Linked DNA regions of Homo sapiens. The protein of the gene in region 1 purifies or fractionates together with the protein of each later gene. This does not show direct contact. Each region holds a gene or a part of one and is shown in the gene's direction. Other genes may lie near its edges.

The links. The genes of interacting proteins can lie anywhere in the genome.
Region 2: the proteins of KLHL22 (region 1) and NIPSNAP2 purify together in Homo sapiens (co-immunoprecipitation; 4 studies listed by BioGRID and IntAct, with this or other methods). This does not show direct contact.
Region 3: the proteins of KLHL22 (region 1) and NOA1 purify together in Homo sapiens (co-immunoprecipitation; 3 studies listed by BioGRID and IntAct, with this or other methods). This does not show direct contact.
Region 4: the proteins of KLHL22 (region 1) and NDUFAF5 purify together in Homo sapiens (co-immunoprecipitation; 3 studies listed by BioGRID and IntAct, with this or other methods). This does not show direct contact.

The regions. Positions count from the first base shown.
Region 1 is NC_000022.11:20,485,152-20,490,193, reverse strand, and holds part of KLHL22 (kelch-like protein 22), read left to right. Parts: exon of another isoform or gene 1-363; coding exon of another isoform or gene 364-426; intron 427-949; coding exon of another isoform or gene 950-982; coding exon 983-1,209; intron 1,210-5,042. UniProt on the Homo sapiens protein: Substrate-specific adapter of a BCR (BTB-CUL3-RBX1) E3 ubiquitin ligase complex required for chromosome alignment and localization of PLK1 at kinetochores.
Region 2 is NC_000007.14:55,983,997-55,989,038, forward strand, and holds part of NIPSNAP2 (protein NipSnap homolog 2), read left to right. Parts: intron 1-850; coding exon 851-882; intron 883-5,042. UniProt on the Homo sapiens protein: Protein involved in mitophagy by facilitating recruitment of the autophagy machinery required for clearance of damaged mitochondria.
Region 3 is NC_000004.12:56,970,653-56,975,694, reverse strand, and holds part of NOA1 (nitric oxide-associated protein 1), read left to right. Parts: intron 1-1,672; coding exon 1,673-1,837; intron 1,838-2,341; coding exon 2,342-2,547; intron 2,548-5,042. UniProt on the Homo sapiens protein: Involved in regulation of mitochondrial protein translation and respiration. Plays a role in mitochondria-mediated cell death. May act as a scaffolding protein or stabilizer of respiratory chain supercomplexes. Binds GTP.
Region 4 is NC_000020.11:13,804,440-13,809,481, forward strand, and holds part of NDUFAF5 (arginine-hydroxylase NDUFAF5, mitochondrial), read left to right. Parts: intron 1-4,402; coding exon 4,403-4,463; intron 4,464-5,042. UniProt on the Homo sapiens protein: Arginine hydroxylase that mediates hydroxylation of 'Arg-111' of NDUFS7 and is involved in the assembly of mitochondrial NADH:ubiquinone oxidoreductase complex (complex I, MT-ND1) at early stages. May also have methyltransferase activity.

The DNA.
Region 1 (5,042 bases):
GAAGTGAGGTGGAGAAGACAGATGTTCACATCTTGTAGCTGACTGTGCTGTGCCTACAGAGCCTGCAGCTTGGCCATGCCTCACAGTGTGGGACTGGCCACTCCCTGACCTGAACAGCTGGCTATCCACAGTCACTTTTGGTTGCTCCATGGCAAAAGTGCATTTGCAGTAGGTTCATTTTACTGATTAGGTTTTAGAGGCTCCAATTCAAATCAGTTTGCGGTTTTTGAACGTACTGACTCAATTATTAGAAGATAATCTTTAATTTAAAAGGCAATGCAGATGAATTTAAATGCATCAGGTTCAATCACAGTTACTGTGCTTGACTCTCAGAATTTCAGTAAAGGAAAGTAGGCCCTGGAAATGCCACCCCCTTGGCACCCACCTCCCAGACTCCTGGCTGTGTGTCTCCTGACCACTACTCAGGTCTTGCCATTTTTATGCATCCATTACTATGAGGAAGAACCCAATTTTGTTCATTCAATGGGAGGGAGGAAGAGCTCTTGAGAACCTGGTGTGTGCTTATGCTTCATGTTCATTGTTTTACCAATTTTAGAATACCCCAATGGGGTAGGTACTTTTATCTCTCTTTTTAAAATTGGGGAGCTCGAGGCTCAGTTTGGTCATGTTGTAAGTCCCTGTGGAGTTGGGCTCCAACCCAGGTCAGTCTGTTTCCCAAAACCCTTCTGTTTGACTTTGCCGCTGAAGAAGATACAATGAGATGAAGAGTCTTGGGCATGATGGCACACAGGTCATCAGGAAGAAGGCCATCAGGAAGTTGGACTAGAGGTGGGAGGGGAGAAGGAATTAGGGGATTTGGAAATAGAGGGAAAACAGGTGAGCCTGAGGGAGGCACAGGAGCAAGGGGAGCAACAGAGCTGGCCAGTCTGTGTGTGGTGGGGCTGATGCCTGCCTGCTCACCCCTGTCCCCTGTTTTGCCAACTGTCAGGCCACAGTTGTAAGGGATCTTGTGGCTGTCAGGATGGCAGAGGAGCAGGAGTTCACCCAGCTCTGCAAGTTGCCTGCACAGCCCTCACACCCACACTGCGTGAACAACACCTACCGCAGCGCACAGCACTCCCAGGCTCTGCTCCGAGGGCTGCTGGCTCTCCGGGACAGCGGAATCCTCTTCGATGTTGTGCTGGTGGTGGAGGGCAGACACATCGAGGCCCATCGCATCCTGCTGGCTGCGTCCTGCGATTACTTCAGGTGAGTTCACTAGAGCTGTTTGTAAGAAGAATAACAAAGGTAATCCTGGCTCTGCTAGTAAAGGTACTGGCGGTGACAGTGGCTGGTCTCCTGCTCACCTCAGAGCCTCCCCTACTCCTTGTGGCTATGACTTAGTCAACAAGTGTGAGAGACAGAAGGGGGTCTTAGAGTTCATTTTTCATTCAGTGATCCTGTTTCTTGGGCTTTGCCTCCTCTTCTCTTCCCTCTCTTCTCTTCCTTTTCTTTTCCTTTTCTCTCTCTTTTCTTTTCTCTTTTCTTTCCTCCTTTCTCTCCTCCCCTCCCTTACCATTCCTCCCCTCCGTCAGTAATTATTGCTGTGTATGCATCACCTTCTGGCTCACACCTCTCATCCCTCAGGTGTTAGCCTCTGGCCCTCCCAGTGAGCTCTGTGGCCCCTCTGGGGTTTCTTATGGCCTCCTTCGTGACCCCATCCCAGCACTTGGCACAGTGTGAGGAACCACTGGCTTATCTGTCTTTTCCACTGGGTTGGAATCTGTCTCTTATCCCTAGCACCTGACATGGTTTTCACATATTCAAACAATACCCATGGCTTAAATGAATAAATTTATGTACACAGATAGCAGATCAATACACCATTTGCCCTGTTGTCTGCACTGCTCTGCACTCAAGGAGGTGGGTGTCACCACCCTTATTTCACATAGGTGGCATGAGCCTGAGAAGGACTGAGGGCCACTCGTGGTCCCCAGCAAGGTTGTCATGGGACTCCAAGCCTGAGGTGTTCCATTCTAGCTCTGATTCTGTTCAATCATTTTGTCTTCAAGGCTTAGTTGTAGTTCTCTCTCTCTCTCTTTCTCTTTATCTCTCTCTATTTTTTTAATTAGGAACTATCAAGCAAAATATGTATGGTTTAAGTGCCTTCTGTCTCCAAAAGGAGTTTTGGAGAATGTGACCCAGTGGTGGCTTGGTGCAGATGTGTCCAGGAGCAGCAGAATTCTTTCAGTTCACCAGGGAAATTCAGCTGAGGCCTTTAATAAGCATTAAGATAACATACAGGACAGTGGGTAGGGTAGAGGAGCTGAGGGCCCCCTGCAGGGGACTTAGGACCTGTATAGGAGAGGATGGCCAGAGGCTGTGGAGCCTATGGGATCCCCTGGGCTCACCCTCTCAGCCCTTCTTGATTTAGTGTCATACCACTCTTTCTGAAGATGACAGTGTAGGCAGCCTTTCGCTAATCTGTCAAAAACCTTATGTGGCTTTCCACGTCCTCCAGGAGCAATTTCTAGCCCTTTCCACAGCCCCCCTTGGGTAAACCTCTTATGAGAGGTGTCCTGCTCTCCGGGATGATTACAATGCATCACTAACACCCCCTGCATCCCTCCACTTCCATTGGGAAGGGGAGCGGGAGAGTGGCAACATTATTGGAAGAGCCCAGAGTCATTTCACAGGGGGGTGTGTGTGTGTATGTATAAATAAGAAATAGAGGCCAGTCACGGTGGCTCACACCTGTAATCCCAGCACTTTGGGAGGCCAAGGCAGGTGGATCACTTGAGGCCAGGAGTTTGAGACTAGCCTGGCCAACATGGTGAAACCCTGTCTCTACTAAAAAAAAAAAAAAAAATTAGCTGGGTGTAGTGGTGGGCGCCTGTAATCCCAGCTACTTGGGAGGCTGAGGCAGGAGAGTTGCTTGAACACAGGATGCGGAGGTTGCAGTGAGCCGAGATTGTGCCACTGCATTCCAGCCTGGGTGACAGAGCAAGACCCTGTTTCAAAAAAACAAAAAAGAGGCTGGATGTAGTGGCTCACGCCTGTAATCCTAGAACTTTGGGAGGCCGAGGCGGGTGGATCACCTGAGATTAGTAGTTCGAGACCAGCCTGGCCAACATAGTGAAACTCCGTCTCTGCTAAAAATACAAAAACTAGCGGGGCGTGGTGGCACATGCCTGTAATCCCAGTTACTTGGGAGGCTGAGGCAGGAGAATCACTTGAACCCAGGAGGCGGAGGTTGCAGTGAGCCTAGAAAGAGGCCAGGCTTGGTGGCTCACTCCTATAATTCCAGCACTTCGGGAGGCCAAGGAGGGCGGATAACTTGAGGTCAGGAGTTGGAGACCAGCCTGACCCACATGGCAATACCCTGTCTCTACTAAAAATACAAAATTAGCTGGGCGTGGTAGCACATGCCTGTAATCCCAGCTACTCAGGAGGCTGAAGCAGGAGAATTGCTTGAACCCGGGAGGCGGAGGTTGCAGTGAGCCGAGATTGCGCCACTGCATTCCAGCCTGGGCAACAAGAATGAAACTCCGTCTCAAAAAAAAAAAAAAAGAAAAGAAATAGACCATTCCCAAGTGTTAGCATGTTTATTATTTGTTTTAGTTACTTGTGAAATGTTAAAATGATAAAGGACTATTTTTTTCCCAGTATGACTGGTAAATATGTGTGAGAGGCTTGTAATATTTGATATGGGCAAGGGTAGAGAGAAGGGCATTTAGGGGTGGGCTGGCCCATAGTTTAGGGCCCTGCAGTTGTATGTTGGGTGTCTAGGTGTCATTCCTGTGGGACGATGCACCCAGTGCTGAGACATGGTGCAGGACAGAGCCTTTCTGTGTTATCCAATGGAGCTACTTGCAAACTGGGCAGTGTGGTGTGTCTACTGATAGGGAGTGAAAAACCTCAGGACCTGGTGGAAGATGATCCCAACCATGAAGATCTGGAAGGATCTTGCTGCACCGTGGGGACTCAGCAAAGGGCAAAGGGAGAGGGAGGCTGAATTTCTTCTGTTTACTGCATTGTCTGAATTATTTTACAAAGAACATAAATTTCTTTTTTTTTTTTTTTTTTTGAGACGGAATCTCACTCTGTCACCCAGGCTGGAGTGCAGTGGTGTGATCTCGGCTCACTGCAACCTCTGCCTCCGGGTTCAAGCAATTCTCCTGCCTCAGCCTCTCGAGTAGCTGGGACTACAGGTGTGCGCCACCACGCCCGGCTAATTTTTTGTATTTTTAGTAGAGACAGGGTTTCACCATGTTGGCCAGGCTGATCTCGAACTCCTGACCTTGTGATTTGCCCTCCTTGGCCTCCCAAAGTGCTGGGATGACAGGTGTGAGCCACACCACGCCCAGCCTTTTGTTTGTTTGTTTTGAGATGGAGTCTCGCCCTGTCCCCCAGGCTGAAGTGCAGTGGGGCAATCTCGGCTCACTGCAACCTCTGCCTCCCGGGTTCAAGTGATTCTCCTGCCTCAGCCTCCTGAGTAGCTGGGATTACAGACGTGTGCCACCAAACCCGGCTAATTTTTGTATTTTTAGTAGAGGCGGGGTTTTGCCATGTTGGCCAGGCTGGTCTCCAACTCCTGACCTCAGGTGATCCGCCTGCCTTGGCCTCCCAAAGTGTTCGGATTACAGACGTGAGCCACCATGCCTGGCCTCTTCTCTGCCTTTTCTGTCCTGTGGAAATTTTTCTTCTTTGGCCCACCTGAGATGCCTCCTCCTCTGGAGAGCTTTCCCTAATTGTCCCTTGCTGTTTCCCAGGTGGAGGAATCTCAGTTTTCCTGAAGGGCAGAGAGCTGTACTGCCCTGCTGCAGGAAGCCTCCTGTGCTCTTTCTGTGTACTCTGTACATGGTTTAGGAATTGGATGGCCAGACTGCATTTTCTTTTTTTGACTTTTGTTAATAACTTTTCATTGCACACTTACTTTGGCTCCCCTGACCCTACACCCACCTTGTATGCTTTAACCTTGTATGCTTCTGAGGTGGTTTCTCCTCTCCTCCTGGACCCTTATAGTCTGAAGAGCCCAAAGGCTCTGTCCTTTTTATACAACCTCCATGGGTCACCTCGTCCCTCCCTTAGTTTTCATTCCA
Region 2 (5,042 bases), on another chromosome or scaffold:
ATTTTTTTAAGACTGGGTCTCACACTGTCACCAAGGCTAAGCTCTTTTGCTTTTTATGGCCTTACACATAATGCTTATTATTTGATATTTTTCTAAATAACATATTTGTTTTTAAGAAGAAAGACCTAAAGTGCAGGATAAGGTACAATATGTAACATCTGTTGTGGTTAAAGGAGAGCAGCTAATAAACACTGTGACTGTTGAACAAATTATATAACATGATAAGAGTAAAAGGCAATAATATAACACTTTCTAGAAATTTTCCTACTGAGGACTAGAAAGAAAGCCCCACATAGCAGCATTATTAAAGTGGCTAATGCCTGTAATCCCAGCACTTTGGGAGGCCAAGGTTGGAGGATTGCTTGAGCCAGGAAGCTTGAGACCAGCCTGAACAACATAGTGAGACCCTGTCTCTATTAAATTAAAAAGTAAAGTTTTGGCTGGGTGTGGTGGCTCATGCCTGTAATCCCAGCTTTTTGGGAAGTCAAGGCAGGTGGGTGACCTGAGGTCAGGAGTTTGAGACCAGCTTGGCCAACATGGTGAAACCCCATCTCTTACTAAAAATATAAAAAATTAGCCAGGCATGGTGGCGGGCGCCGGTAATCCCAGCTACTCAGGAGGCTGAGGCAGGAGAATTGCTTGAACCCAGGAGGCGGAGGTTTCAGGAGCTGAGATTGAGCCACTGCACTCCAGCCTGGGTGACGGAGCAAGATTCTGTCTCAAAAAAAAAAAAAAAAAAGGTTTTTTGAAGTTAGTTTTGTCACTTAATGTTTTTTCTACTGCTGTTTGCTATTTCTGTATTTTTTTTTTCACAGAAGAACTAACAAACCAAATCTAAATCTGTTTTCAGCCAGGAACCATGATTGAATGGGGCAATTACTGGTGAGTATATTACTGAATGGTGATTTTTTAAGTCTTGTGAATAGATTAGTTTAGGCCATAGTGTTAATTCTAGGGAAAAAAATCTGAGGATAGTACTGTGACTTAACACTGCACTAATGTTTCGTTTGATGTTTTTATTATGAGATTTTTCAAACATACAAAACTAGAGAGAATAATGGGGCTCCCCTTCCACATCCATCTCTTAGCTTCAATAATTAACACATGGCCAATCTTGTTTAGGCCTAACTCCTTCAACCCAGATTGTTTGGAATTAAATCCCAGACAGCATTCTATTTCATTCATAAATATTTCAGTACTATATATATTTCTAAAAGATAAGCACCTTTTTTTTAAAAGCAAAACCAATATTGCATAAGGTTAGTTTACATACTTCTTGGATATCATCTTTTCTGAAACGTTACTTTTGTCATATATACACACCATGTCAATAATGGTTTCTTCTTTTTTTCCTTGCTAGTTTGAGTAGAAAAATAACAATTTTTCCACAAGTTGATATGTAGATTCAGCAGAATCCCTATCAAACTCCCAGCAGGCTTTAGAAGTGCAAAAGACTAGCCAGGTGCACTGTGGCTCATGCCTGTAATCCCAGCACTTTGGGAAGCCAAGGCAGGAGAATCACTCAAGTCCAGGAGTTCAAGACCAGCCTGGGCAACATAGTAAGACCCCCAACCTCTACCAAAATAAATAAATAAATAAAACTAGCCAGGTGTGATGCCACATGCCTGAGGTCCCAGGTATTTGAGAGGCTGAGTAAGAGAATTGCTTAAGCCCAGAAGATGGAGTTTGCAGTGAGCCAAGATTGCACCACTGCACTCCAGCCTGGGCAACAGAGTGAGACCCTGTCTCAAAAAAAAAAAAAAAAAAAAGTCCGGGCATGTTGGCTCACACCTGTAATCTCAACACATTGGGAGGCTGAGGTGGGCAGATCACCTGAAGTTAGGAGTTCGAGACCAGCCTCGCTAACATGGCAAAACCCCATCTCTACTGAAAATATAAAGATTAGCCGAGCGTGGTGGTGCACTCCTGTAATCCCAGCTACTTGGGAGGCTGAGGCAGGAGAATTGCTTGAACCCAGGAGGCAGAGGTTGCAGTGAGCTGAGATCACACCACTGTGCTCTAGCCTAGGTGACAGAGTGAGACTCCTTTTCAAAAAAATAAAATAAAAATAAAAATAAAGACTGGGCATGATGGCTCATGCCTGTAATTCCAGCACTTTGGGGAGGCTGAAGGAGGAGAATTGCTTCAGCCCAGACGTTTGAGACTTTGAGACCAGCCTGGGCAACATGACGAAACCCCAACTCTACAAAAAAATACAAAAATTAACCGGGCATGGTGGCACACACTTGTAGTCCCAGCTCCTCGGGAGGCTGAGGTGGGAGGATCACCTGAGCCTTAAAGGTGGAGGCTGCAGTGAGCCATGATTGTACTACTATTCAGCCTGGGAGAGAATAAGACCCTGTCTCAAAAAAATAAAAAATTAGGGCGGGGATGGTGGCTCACACCTGTTATCCCAGCACTTTGGGAGGCCAAGGTGGGAAGATCACTTGAGGTCAGGAGATTGAGACCAGCCTGACCAACTTGGTGAAACCCTGTCTCTACTAAAAATACAAAAATTAGCCACGTATGGCGGTGTGCACCTGTAGTTCCAGCTACTCAGGAGGCTGAGGCAGGAGAATCACTTGAACCTGGGAGACAGAGGTTGTAGTGAGCCAAGATCACCCCATTGCACTATAGCCTGGGTGACAGCAGACTGTTTCAAAACAAAACAAAAAATTGCCTTACTTTCAGTGATACTAAAAAAAAAAATTTAATTAAAAAGACAAGTCATATACTGGAATAAAATATTTGCAAATCATATGTCTGATAAGCAAATTGAATTCAGAATAGATAAATAATTCTTACAACTCAATAATAAGAATACAGATAACTCAATTAAAAAATGGGTAAAGAATTTGAAAAGACAGCAGCTGGGTGTGGTGGCTCACACCCGTAATCCTAGCACTTTGGGAGGCCAAGGCAGGAGGATCGCTTGATGCTAGGAGTTGGTGACCAGCCTGGGCAACATGGTGAAACCCTGTCTCTATAAAAAAAAAAAAAAAAAAAAAAAAAAACTTGCCAGGCGTGGTGGTGGCACATGCCTGTAGTCTCAGCTATTCAGGAGGCTGAGGTGGGAGGATTGCTTGAGCCTGGGGAGGTGGAGACTGCAGTGAGCCATGATCATGCCACTGCACTCCCAGTGAGACCCTGTCTCACAAAAATAAAAAATAAATTGAAAATGGAATTAGTGTGATTCAGCAGTCCCACTTCTGGATATATATCCAACAGAATTCAAAGCAGATCTCAAAAAGATTCGCATACCCATGTTTATCATAGCTTTATTTGCAGTAGCCAAGAGGTAGAAACAACCCACATATCCATCAATAGATAAATGGATAAAGAAATTGTGGGCTGGGTGCGGTGGCTCACACCTGTAATCCCAGCACTTTGGGAGGCCAAGGCAGGCTGGTCACCCGAGCTCAGGAGTTTGAGACCAGCCTGGCCAACATGGCAAAACCCCGTCTCTACTAAAAATACAAAAATTAGCTGGGCGTGGTAGCGTGCACCTGTAGCCCCAGCTACTCAGCAGGCTGAGGCAGGAGAATCACTTGAACCCGGGAGGTGGAGGTTGCAGTGAGCTGAGATCGCGCCACTGCCCTCCAGCCTGGCAACAGAGCGAGACTTCATCCCCCGCCTCCAAAAAAGAAGGAAGTCTTGTCTTATACTGCAATATGGTGAACATTGAGGAGGATGTAATGCTAAGTGAAATAAGAGGACAAATAGTGTATCATTCTCCTTATGTGAAGTATCCAGTGTTGCCAAAATCATAGAAACAGAAAGTGGAAAGGTGGTTGCCGGGAGCTGGGCAGAGAGGGAATACGGAATTGGTGTTTATTGAGTATAGAGTTTCAGTTTTACAAAATGAAAATGTTTTGGAGATCTGTGGCATAACAGTGTAAATATACTGGACACTGCATAAAAATGGGTAAGATGGTAAATTCAATGTTAACGTGTTTTTTTTACCACAATAAAAAATACGTTTAAAAAATGTTTAGGCCAGGTGCAGTGGCTCACAGCTACTTTGGGAGGCTAAGGTGGGCAGATCACCTGAGATCAGGAGTTTGAGACCAGCCTGGGCAACATGGTGAAACCCCATCTCTACAAAAAATACAAAAATTAACCAGGTGTGGTAGCACATGCCTGTAATCTCAGCTGCTTGGGAGGCTGAGGCACGAGAATCACTTGAACCTGGAAGGCAGAGGTTGCAGTGAGCTGAGATTGTGCCACTGCACTTCAGCCTGGGCTACAGACCCTGTATCAAAAAAAAAATTTTTTTTTAAATAAATTTTAAAACTTTTTAACGGACAAAGGATTTGAATAGGATTTCACCAAAGAAAATACATGAATGCCCATAAGCTTATGGAAAGGGACTCAACCTTCTTAGTCATTATGGAAATGCAAAGTGAAACTATAATGGGATACCAGTTCCTGCACACTGGGACAGCTGTAACTTAAAAGAGATAGATAATAACGTGTTAGTGAGGTGAGGAGAAAGTGGACCCTTCCGATATTGCTGATGGGAATGTAAAATGGTGCAGCCACTTTGGAAATAGTCTAGTAGTCCCTCAGAAATTACATGTGGGCTGGACGCAGTGGTTCACGCCTGTAATCCCAGCACTTAACGAGGCTGAGGGCGCGGATCACCTGAGGTCAAGAATTCGAGACCGACCTGGCCAACGTGACAAGACCCCATCTGTGCTAAAAATAAATACCAAAAACGTAGCCGGGCATGTTGGTGTGCACCTGTAATCCCAGCTACTCAGGAGGCTGAGGCAGGAGAATCGCTTGAACCCAGGAGGTGGAGGTTGCAGTGAGCCAAGGTCACGCCTCTGCACTCCAGCCTGGGTGACAGAGCAAGACTCCATCTCAAAAAAAAGAAAAAAAAAATTACATATGACCCAGCAATTTCATTCCTGGGTGTCTACCCAAAAGATACCATCCATATAAACACTTATATATATGTGTATAAGTGTTTCTTATACAAGAATCTTTCCTCCTTGGATCATCAAAGGCTAAATAATGCAAGTTAGAAAGCAAACATC
Region 3 (5,042 bases), on another chromosome or scaffold:
TATGTTGGTCAGGCTGGTCTCAAACCCCTGACCTCGTGATCCGCCCGCCTCAGCATCCCAAAGTGCTGGGATTACAGGTGTGAGCCACCGCGCTTGGCCTAATTTTTGTATTTTCAGTAGAGATGGGGTTTCACCTTGTTGGCCAGGCTGGTCTGGAACTCTTGGCCTCCCAAAGCGCTGGGATTACAGGCAAGCACCACCATGCCCAGCTAATTTTTGTATCTTTGGTAGAGACAGGGTTTCAACATGTTGGCCAGGCAGGTCTCCAACTCCTGACCTCACGTGATCTGCCCACCTCGTCCTCCCAAAGTGCTGGGATTACAGGTGTGAGCCACTGCTCCCAGCCCATTAGTGCAATTTGATGTGTGGCTTTGCCGGGCTCAGTGGCTCACATCTGTAATTCTAGCACTTTGGGAGGCCAAGGTGGGCAGATTGCTTGAGCTCAGGAGTTCAGGACCAGCCTGGGCAACATGGTGAAACCCTGTCTCTACTAAAGATACAAAAATTAGTCAGGCTGGTGGTGCGTGCCTGTAGTCCCAGCTACTCAGGAGGTTGAGGTGGGAGAATCACCTGAGCCTGGAAGGTTGAGGTGGCAGTGAGCCCTAATTGGGCCACTGCACTCCAATCCAGCCTGGACAACAGAGACCCAAAAAAACAGAAGTATCAGTCTTGTGACTTTAAGAAACTTCTGTGGCCAGGTGCAGTGGGTCACACCTGTAATCCGAGCACTTTGGGAGGCCAAGGTGGGCAGATCACCTGAGGTCAGGAGTTCCAGACCAGACCTGCCCACATGGTGAAACTCCCATGTCTACTAAAAATACAAAACTTAGCCGGGTTTGGTAGCTGGTGCCTGTAATCCCAGCTACTCAGGAGGCTGAGGGTGAAGAATCGCTTGAACCTGGGAGGCTGAGCCAAGATCACACCACTGCACTCCAGCCTGGGCAACAGAGCAAGACGCTGTCTCAAAAACAAGAAAGAAAGAAACAAACTTCTGTAATTAGAAAATGAGTCCTTCTATGGTTTAAATTTTTTTTTTTTTTTTTGAGACAGAGGCTCACTCTGTCGCCCAGGTTGGAGTGCAGTGGTGCGATCTCGCCTCACGGCAACCCTCACCTCCCAGGTTCAAGCGATTCTCCTGCCTCAGCCTCCCAAATAGCTGGACTACAAGTGTGCACCACCACACCCAGCTAATTTTTTGTATTTTTAGTAGAGACAGGGTTTCACCATGTTGGCAAGGCAGGTCTCGAACTCCTGACCTCAAGTGATCCACCCGCCTGGGCCTCCCAAAGTGCTGGGATTACAGGTGTGAGCCACTACGCTCAGCCAGGCTTAAATTTAAGTTGACAAAACTGACTGCCCCATTTGTTCCCTTGAAACCAAAGTTTCATTTAGTAAGCTGCTCTTCTCTGTCTTGCACTTTGAATTTTACAGAAAAATTACTTTTATACTGAATGGTAATGTGATAAAAATGGAAAGAAATCGGGCCTACAGATTTTGGATTCCAATTCTGGTTTCCCCTGTGAACTAATCTCTTAACCTATTTCCTCATTTGTAAAGTGGCAGTAATTTTATATTTTATTACAGTAACCAACACAGTGTAGATCCTCAAAAATGTTCATTTTCTTCCCCCTTATTCCCTTTTGTAAAGATGTATTTATTCTGTGTATTTCAGGTACTACATTAAACCTTCTGAAGTTTCCTATTTGCAACCCAACTCCTTACAGAATGTTTAAAAGGCATCAAAGACTTAAAAAAGATTCAACTCAAGCTGAAGAAGATCTTAGTGAGCAAGAACAAAATCAGCTTAATGTCCTCAAAAAGCATGGTTATGTCGTAGGTAAGCATCCTCTATGGGAAAACCCTCGTTGGTACTATGCTAAAATTCTTTGTTAAGCAACCTGAAATACAGCTGTCCGAGGCTAGCCAGTTTTTGTGGGGAGAGACTGCCTTCCTTATTCTGCAACAAAGAGGCCCTTTAGCGATAAGGCTACTGTTTGGAAACCCAGAGCAGTACAGGTAGTAAAAGTTTTTACTCCATGCAGCAGCTTTAGATTAGGTTGTCTGTCTTTCCTTGGTATATCTTTTCAGCCTTTCTTTAAAACAGTCTGATTTCCACACACCCTTGCCCCCGCCACTCCATGTACACAGCCAGCCACACGCTTGATTATTGCAAGAGTTGACTCCCACTGCTTTTTGGAAAAAAAAAAAAGCAAAAGTATCATTATGGTCTCACTTCCCTACACTGTAATCTTAGTAACTTGTTTGAGGGAAACATAAAAATTATGTCTGGAGTTAAAAGTATTAAAGGAGTGACTAATAACCTTACTATAACTTGTTCTAGGAAGAGTTGGAAGGACATTCTTGTATTCAGAAGAACAGAAGGATAACATTCCCTTTGAGTTTGATGCTGATTCACTTGCCTTTGACATGGAAAATGACCCTGTTATGGGTACACACAAATCCACCAAACAAGTAGAATTGACTGCACAAGATGTGAAAGATGCCCACTGGTTTTATGACACCCCTGGAATTACAAAAGAAAATTGTGTATGTATTTGGTTTCTTTTAGAAACATTTACTTTCTTTTTCTTTTTTAATGGGTTTATATTGCCTGCTGCCCAGATACAGCCAATTTATCAAGACAGGGGAATTGCAATAGAGAAAGAGTGTAATGCATGTAGAGCCAGCTAAATGGGAAACTGGAGTTTTATTACTAGTCATATCAGCCTCAGAAACATTTACTTTCAATTGCACAAGTACTGCTGTCTTAATTGGCAGAAAACAGGAAAAGAAGTATACTTCCATTTTAGACTCAGTTCTGATTCATTCATGAAAGCTGTTTAGGGGTGAATCTGTATGCCATCAAGTTCTGTGTTCCATTTGATAGACTTCATTGCTGACAACCAACTTATTTTATCATTGTGATTGTTACCTTGGTTAGGGAAACGTTTACAGAAGCCTAGGTTTTGAGGTTGGAAAAACACATAAATATCACTGGAGTCCAACTCCCTAGTCCCTGCTTGAATTACCTCTGTAACATATCCATCAAGGGGTCCTCCATCTTGAACTGAAAGGAGTGACTCACCAAAGCTGAAACTGTCATGTCACCTTCCAAGGTAACTCATTTGGGTCTTTGACCTTCTCTTTGTATTGAGTGTACTGAGCTGAATAGTCTCCCTGTAACATGTATCCATTGTTCCCCAAAGCCATCTGGGACTAAGGTAATACCTATTTCCCTTGCCAGACAAATATTTTAAAATGTAACGTCCCATCTCTTCTTCACCTATCCCTCCCTTTTCTTCTCTTTCATTACTTCATCCAGCAAACGTTGAGCATTCACTGTGCCCACAATCTGGATTATTTGTCTTCATTTCCTACAGCTGTGCTGTAGGAAACAGGCTATTCATTGGCCCAGGCCTCTTCAGAATGTTTTCTATGTTTGTTCTTAAAGTGTGACACTGAGAACTCAGTGCTCTCAGGTGAGCATGATTTAGAATAGCATTAACTCCGACCGGGCGCAGTGGCTCACGCCTGTAATCCCAGCACTTTGGGAGGCCCAGGCGGGCAGATCACAAGGTCAGGAGATCGAGACCATCTGGGCTAACACGGTGAAACCCTGTCTGTACTAAAAATACAAAAAATTAGCCAGGAGGTAGTGGGCACCTGTAGTCCCAGCTACTCGGGAGGCTGAGGCAGGAGAATGGTGTGAACCCGGGAGGCGGAGCTTGCAGTGAGCTGAGATCGTGCCACTGCACTCCAGTCTGGGTGACAGAGCAAGACTCTGTCTCAAAAAAAAAAAAAAAAGAATAGCATTAACTCCACCTGTCTTGTCCCTATGCCTCTCTTTTATCCAATTGCTCATGGACAACTTTGGGCCTCATAGGTAACTTTGACTTTGTCTTGTTAAATTCAGCCTATATCTTACTCTGTTAAATATTCATTCAATCTCATTACTTTTTATATTTGCAGTTTGGATCTTCATTCAGATCATTGATTGACTCAAATGTGCATCCAGGATACAGCCTCACAACAGATTCATTAATCATTTCCTTCGAATCTGGTTACTGACCAGTTTCCGATTTTCTAATTATCTCTGTATCTCCCTACAAAACCACATTGGTTTCTTAGGTACTTTTCTTGGCCTCATCAGGAACACTTATAGTTACATTCTCAGAATTGTATTCTATTTGGTGTCCCCTGTCATTGAATCATACACACCTTTTAAATTTTATTGCTCTCCTGGAATAATTGCTCATGCCATCTTTTCTTCCTTAGCAGTCCAAAAGTTCAGAGCTGCTTTCTAATAATATTCTGTCACTTTAGCTTAATGAACTAATTCTTCCCCCACCATACTTTTTTTTTTTTTTTTTTTTTTTTTTGAGATGGAGTCTGACTCTCTTGCCCAGGCTGGAGTGCAGTGGCGCAATGATCTTGGCTCACTGCAACCTCTGCCGCCTGGGTTCAAGCGATTGTCCTGCCTCAGCCTCTCGAGTAGCTGGTATTAGAGGCATGTACCACCACACCCAGCTACTTTTTGTATTTTTAATAGAGACAGGGTTTCGCCATGTTGGCCAGGCTGGTCTCAAACCCCTCACCTCAGGTAATCCACCCACTTCAGCCTCCCAAAGTGCTAGGATTGTGGATGGGAGCCACTACGCCCAGACTAATTCTTCCCTTTCAGATGCTATTAGATCAGGCATAGCAGTTACTTCAGTCATATATCCTCTATTAAATAGTTGTGTCAGAAAGGCAAGAATTTGCAAAATACTCTAGACAGCAGAATGAGAACCCCAAATTTTTAGATATAAACGTCTGTCAGCACTGGTAGTTTGCTTCTCTGTTAGTTTACAGATAAACTTATTTGATGTCTTAAACCAGGGTTTCCCAGACTGAACCAAGGATCTCTGTTGTGAAATGAAAGTATTAAGACTCAGGCTGTGCACAGTGCCTCACACCTGTAGTCCCAGCACTTTGGGAGGCCGAGGTGGGAGGATTGCTTGAGCCCAGGAGTTTGAGACCAGCCTGGGCAACATGCCAAAACT
Region 4 (5,042 bases), on another chromosome or scaffold:
AAGGACTACTTTATATAGACAGTCATATGTATTCACACATTTCTGAAACTTTTTTTATTAACAGTATATGTATTTCCAATATACTGTTAATAGTTTTCTAAATTGGTATGGATATATTTGCACTCCTTAATTTCCGCATATTATTTCCTAGTATGAATGTACCACAGTTTTACTTAACTATTTACCTGTGAATGACCTTTAGGTTTGTTCTGATTTTTTGCCAATAGTAGCAATGCTGCAGTGAATATCCTTCTATACAAATTCATTTATGTATTCAGTCTTGCAACAAACATTTACTGAGTACCTTCTGTGTGTCTGGTACTATCCTAGGTACTTCAAATATAGCAGTGAACAAAACAGAAATCCCTGCGTGGTGTTTTTGGGTTTATAGCAGGCCTGTTGGTAAACTTTAGACCGTTCAATAATACTGGGATGTTGTACACAAAATTTGTGGTGGTGGTGTTCATAAATGGAGGAAAGTACCCATGGTTTTCATCAGATCTTGAGAGAGCTAATATAACTAAAAATAGATTAGGAACCAGTGATTTAAAGCCTTTTTGATAATATTTATTTTACTTATAATATGGAAAAAATTTCCTTTACAGTCTACCCTCTTGAGAATCGTCTCCTATATTGCTGTGTCACCAACCTATCATTGAGATGAAAAAAGAATCTCCGGGAATGTAAAGCCTCTAAAAAGTATAGGAGGTGTAGGGCTGGGATGGTGTGGCGATGTGTAGTGCACATTTTCATGAGGTGATGTTAAAAAATTTATACGAGGTCATACAGGTTAGTCAGCAATATTACAGGACTCAAAAGTTATTGCCCATTACGAAAAAAATGGGATTTCTGCTAATCACCAGAAGAAAGTTAAATTATGTGAACTACACATGGTTTTCTGTGGTTATAAAGAATGAGTTTTAGAAAGATTTCTACTAAAAATGTTTAACCTGATGTTAAAATGTTTAAAAGCCTACATTTCTATTAATTGGGAAATATAATTCAGAATACTATCCATATTCTCTAAAAATGAGCCTAATGACTCATACTTTAATATAATATAAAAATATTGGTGTAGAATCTTCTTTAGTTTATACAATTAGAAAGTTGCTGATTTAATAAGAAAGTTATGAGAATGTCTTCTTGAATCATTACATTTATCCTGTGAGGCATGTATACAGTTTTGTTTCTGAGGTGCTGTATTAATATTGCGTCCTGGCCAGGCACAGTTGTTCACTCCCATAATCTCAGCACTTTGGGAGGCCTAGGTCAGAGAATCACTTCAGCCTGGGATTTCAAGACCAGCCTGGGCAACATAGGGAGTCCTCATCTCTAAAAAAAAATTTTTTTAAATAGCTGGGCCTGCCTGTAGTCCCAGCTACTCGGGAGGCTGAGTTGGAAGGATTGAGCCTGGGACGTTGAGGCTGCAGTGAGCCATGATCTCACCACTGCACTCCAGCCTGTGTGACAGAGCAAGATCCTGTCTCCAAAAAAAATAATAATAATATGTGTTCTAATTCATTTTCTAAAAATTCCCATCCAAAAAAGCTTTTGTATAATCAGCTATACAGGTTTATGTTGCATACATTAGATATATTACTTTTACGCTACAATGGATTTTTATTTTTAAAGTGAAATCGAGTCAGATTAGTATCATATAGATGTATTTACATCTTAATGTATTTTCATCTTAATGAATTATTTTCAGAGAATGAGCATTCTAAGTAAAGCTGATTTCCGTTTTAGAACTGAACTACCAGACTAGTACTTTAAGAGAATGGTGCAAGGCCTGGCACGGTGGCTCACGCCTCTAATCCTAACACTTTGGGAGGCCAAGGCAGGCAGATCACAAGGTCAGGAGATCAAGACCATCTTGACTAACACAGTGAAACCCCGTCTCTGCTGAAAATACAAAAAAATTAGCTGGGCGTGGTGGCACATGGCCTGTAGTCCCAGCTACTTGGGAGGCTGAGGCAGTAGAATAGCTTGAACCTGGGAGGCGGAGGTTGCAGTGAGCCGAGATCGCACCACTGCACTCCAGCCTGGGCGCTGGGTGGCAAAGTGAGACTCCGTCTCAAAAATAAAATAAAAAAAATGGTGCAGATATGGTCCCCTTTTAATTTAAATAAGGCCTTCAACAAAGCTGTTGTGGCATTCTTTTGATTGAAGTGGAGATAGTGCTTTTAGTTGGTTGCACTGAAGAATTGTTTTCAAAGGATATTGCTTAATGGCTAGATAACAGCCTGGAAAGAATTTTGTTTTTAATCTTAGGATCTCCTCTTAAAAACAGCTTGTTAATATGGAAAAGTATATGGATGATGAATGTTCATGGTCTCACTACCTAGAGGTCTCATTAAAAAGCATACACAACCTGATACACGTATATGTTTTTTTAAAGAAGAGTAAGGTATATATAGAGAGAGTGATACAGTGGGGTGTAAAGTGAAACGAAGTCTCCTCTTCCTGACTTCTCCCTCTGTTGCCCAGGCTAGAGTGCAGTGGCGAGATCTCCGCTTACTGCAACCTCTGCCTCCCAGGTTCAAGGGATTCTCATGCCTCTGCCTCCCAAATAGCTGGGACCAAGGGCATGTGCCATCACACCCAGCAATTTTTTTTTTTTTTTTTGAGATGGAGTCTTGCTCTTTCACCCAGGTTGGAGTGCCGTGGCGTGATCTCGGCTCACTGCAACCTCTGCCTCCCGGGTTCAAGCGATTATGCTGCCTCAGGCTCCCAAGTAGCTGGGACTACAGGCACCAACCACCATGCCTGGCTAATTTTTTGTATTTTTAGTAGAGATGGGGTTTCACCATGTTAGCCAGAATGGTCTCGATCTCCTGACCTCATGATCTGCCTGCCTCGGCCTCCCAAAGTGCTGGGATTACAGGCATGAGCCATCGTGCCTGTCCCTCCTCCTGACTTCTCAAACCCTGGTCCCTTTCCCCAAAGATTTGTTAGCTGTGTCTTAGACATCGTTTCAGATCCACTTTTTTTTATAGACCCATAGAATACACTTATGTCATTTAAACTTACTTATATAATATTACATGCACTCTTTTGCTTTTTTTTTTCCAGTCAATAACATGTCTTGGAGATTTTTTTCCTATAGACATGTATCTACCTTATTTTTTGAGAACTGTACAGTATTTTATAGAATACATATTCTTTAATTTGTTTAACCAGTCCTCTATTAATGATGTTTAGATTTATTTTAGGCTAGTTTCCAGCCAGGCGCCATGGCCCACACTTGGAATCCCAGCACTTTGGGAGGCTGAGGCTGGTGGATCACAAGGTTAGGAGATCGAGACCAGCCTGGCTAACACGGTGAAAGCCCGTCTCTACTAAAAATACAAAAAAAAAAAATTAGCTGGGCACGGTGGCAGGCGCCTGTAATCCCAGCTACTCGGGAGGCTGAGGCACAAGAATCGCTTGAGTTCAGGAGGCAGAGGCTGCAACGAGCAGAGATCACACCACTGCATTCCAGCCTGGGCAACACAGCAAGAATCCGTCTTAAAAAAAAAAAAAATTATTTTAGGCTAGTTTCCAATAAGAATAAACCCCTACTTTTAGTGCCTAACACAATAAAGTTTTATCACATCACAGCTGCGTGCTGGTGGGACAGCCCATCTCCATCTTGTAGCTGTGCCATCTGGCCCTGTGTTCTATAATCTGGCCCTGTGTTCTATAAGATCACCACAGCAAAAGAGATGGCCTGGAAAAGGCTCTAGCTCTTAACTGTCTTGCCCCTCCTTTCTTTGGCCAAAAGAAATATGTGTTTGAGATTGGGAAGTGTCAAGGAGCACCTGGATATTTGGGGAGCATCAGTGGTCTCTGCCACTGTACCAACAGTTAAGTCCTGTATCAGGCTTCAAAAAGAAGAGGAAGTCATTACCCAATTGTTCATTTGAGAAACAAACTCCACATGTATCAGCAATGTGCTCATTTCCTAAACAAGCCTATTGGCTGCATTACTAGATATAGAATGAAATATTTTGATTCTAGGTGCCCCATTTTAAGAAAGATTGATATTGACACTGTCCAGGGACATGTAGTCAGAACATGTAAGGATCTCCAGATTTTTGTGTCCTGAAGGTTTTCAAAGACTTGGAGGAGAGGGCAATGGTTTGTAGGGTACAGAATACTCTTATTCTGTGTGGTTCCCAAAGAGAGAACTAGAACCAATGATGGAGTTTTAGGATGATTTCTCTCACAATGCAGGATATTTAATCAGCAATTAGAGACTTTCATAAATCAAACATAAGCCAGATGACATCTATGAAGAATATTGTAAATATTTTTTGCTTAGCATGGGAGATTGGTCTGGGTAGTCTCTGCGGCCTCTTTTTTAAATCTGGAATTTTGTATCATGAATGTCAAATGAATATTTCTTTTTCTTTTTAAATAGGACACTGATGAAATTCAAGTTAACTATCCTGGAATGTTTGAATTGATGGAAGATTTACAAGGTAAGGCACTTTAAAGAATTTTTAGACTCCATTGGGAAAGGTAGGCCAAAAAAAAAGAATTTTTAGACTCCATTTGAGAGAAACATTTTGAGAGCCAGCTCTTTGGCAGGCACTGGGCAAAGCACTAGGGATCCATTGTTGAGGAGAAAGCAGACTGTCTTCATGGAGCTTCTGATATAAAATGGAGGAGGCAGGCACCAGGCAGCTGTCACAGAGATAAGTGTTAAATTAGAATTATGGTCAGTGCTATGAAGTAGAGGCATATAGTGCTACGGCTGTTTGTAAAAAGATGGCGGGACTTTTTTTTGAAGGGTGCACTTGAGGATGATGGAACACATTGGTGACTTCCTTCAGCCACACTTGGCAGCTGAGATACAGGAATGAAGGTAGTTGAGTTGGTTTAGAAGTAGGGTTTTGTCAGGGGGAAATGTCCCAGTCTGGGAGACTCAAAAAGAAGTGTTATCTGAGGAAGTAGCAATTGAGCTGTGCTCTAAAAAAAAATGGAGATGAATTAACTGGGTAGACAGAGTAGGCAAGTGAATCTGAGGCAAGGAGAACAGCATATGCAAAGGCCCTCCT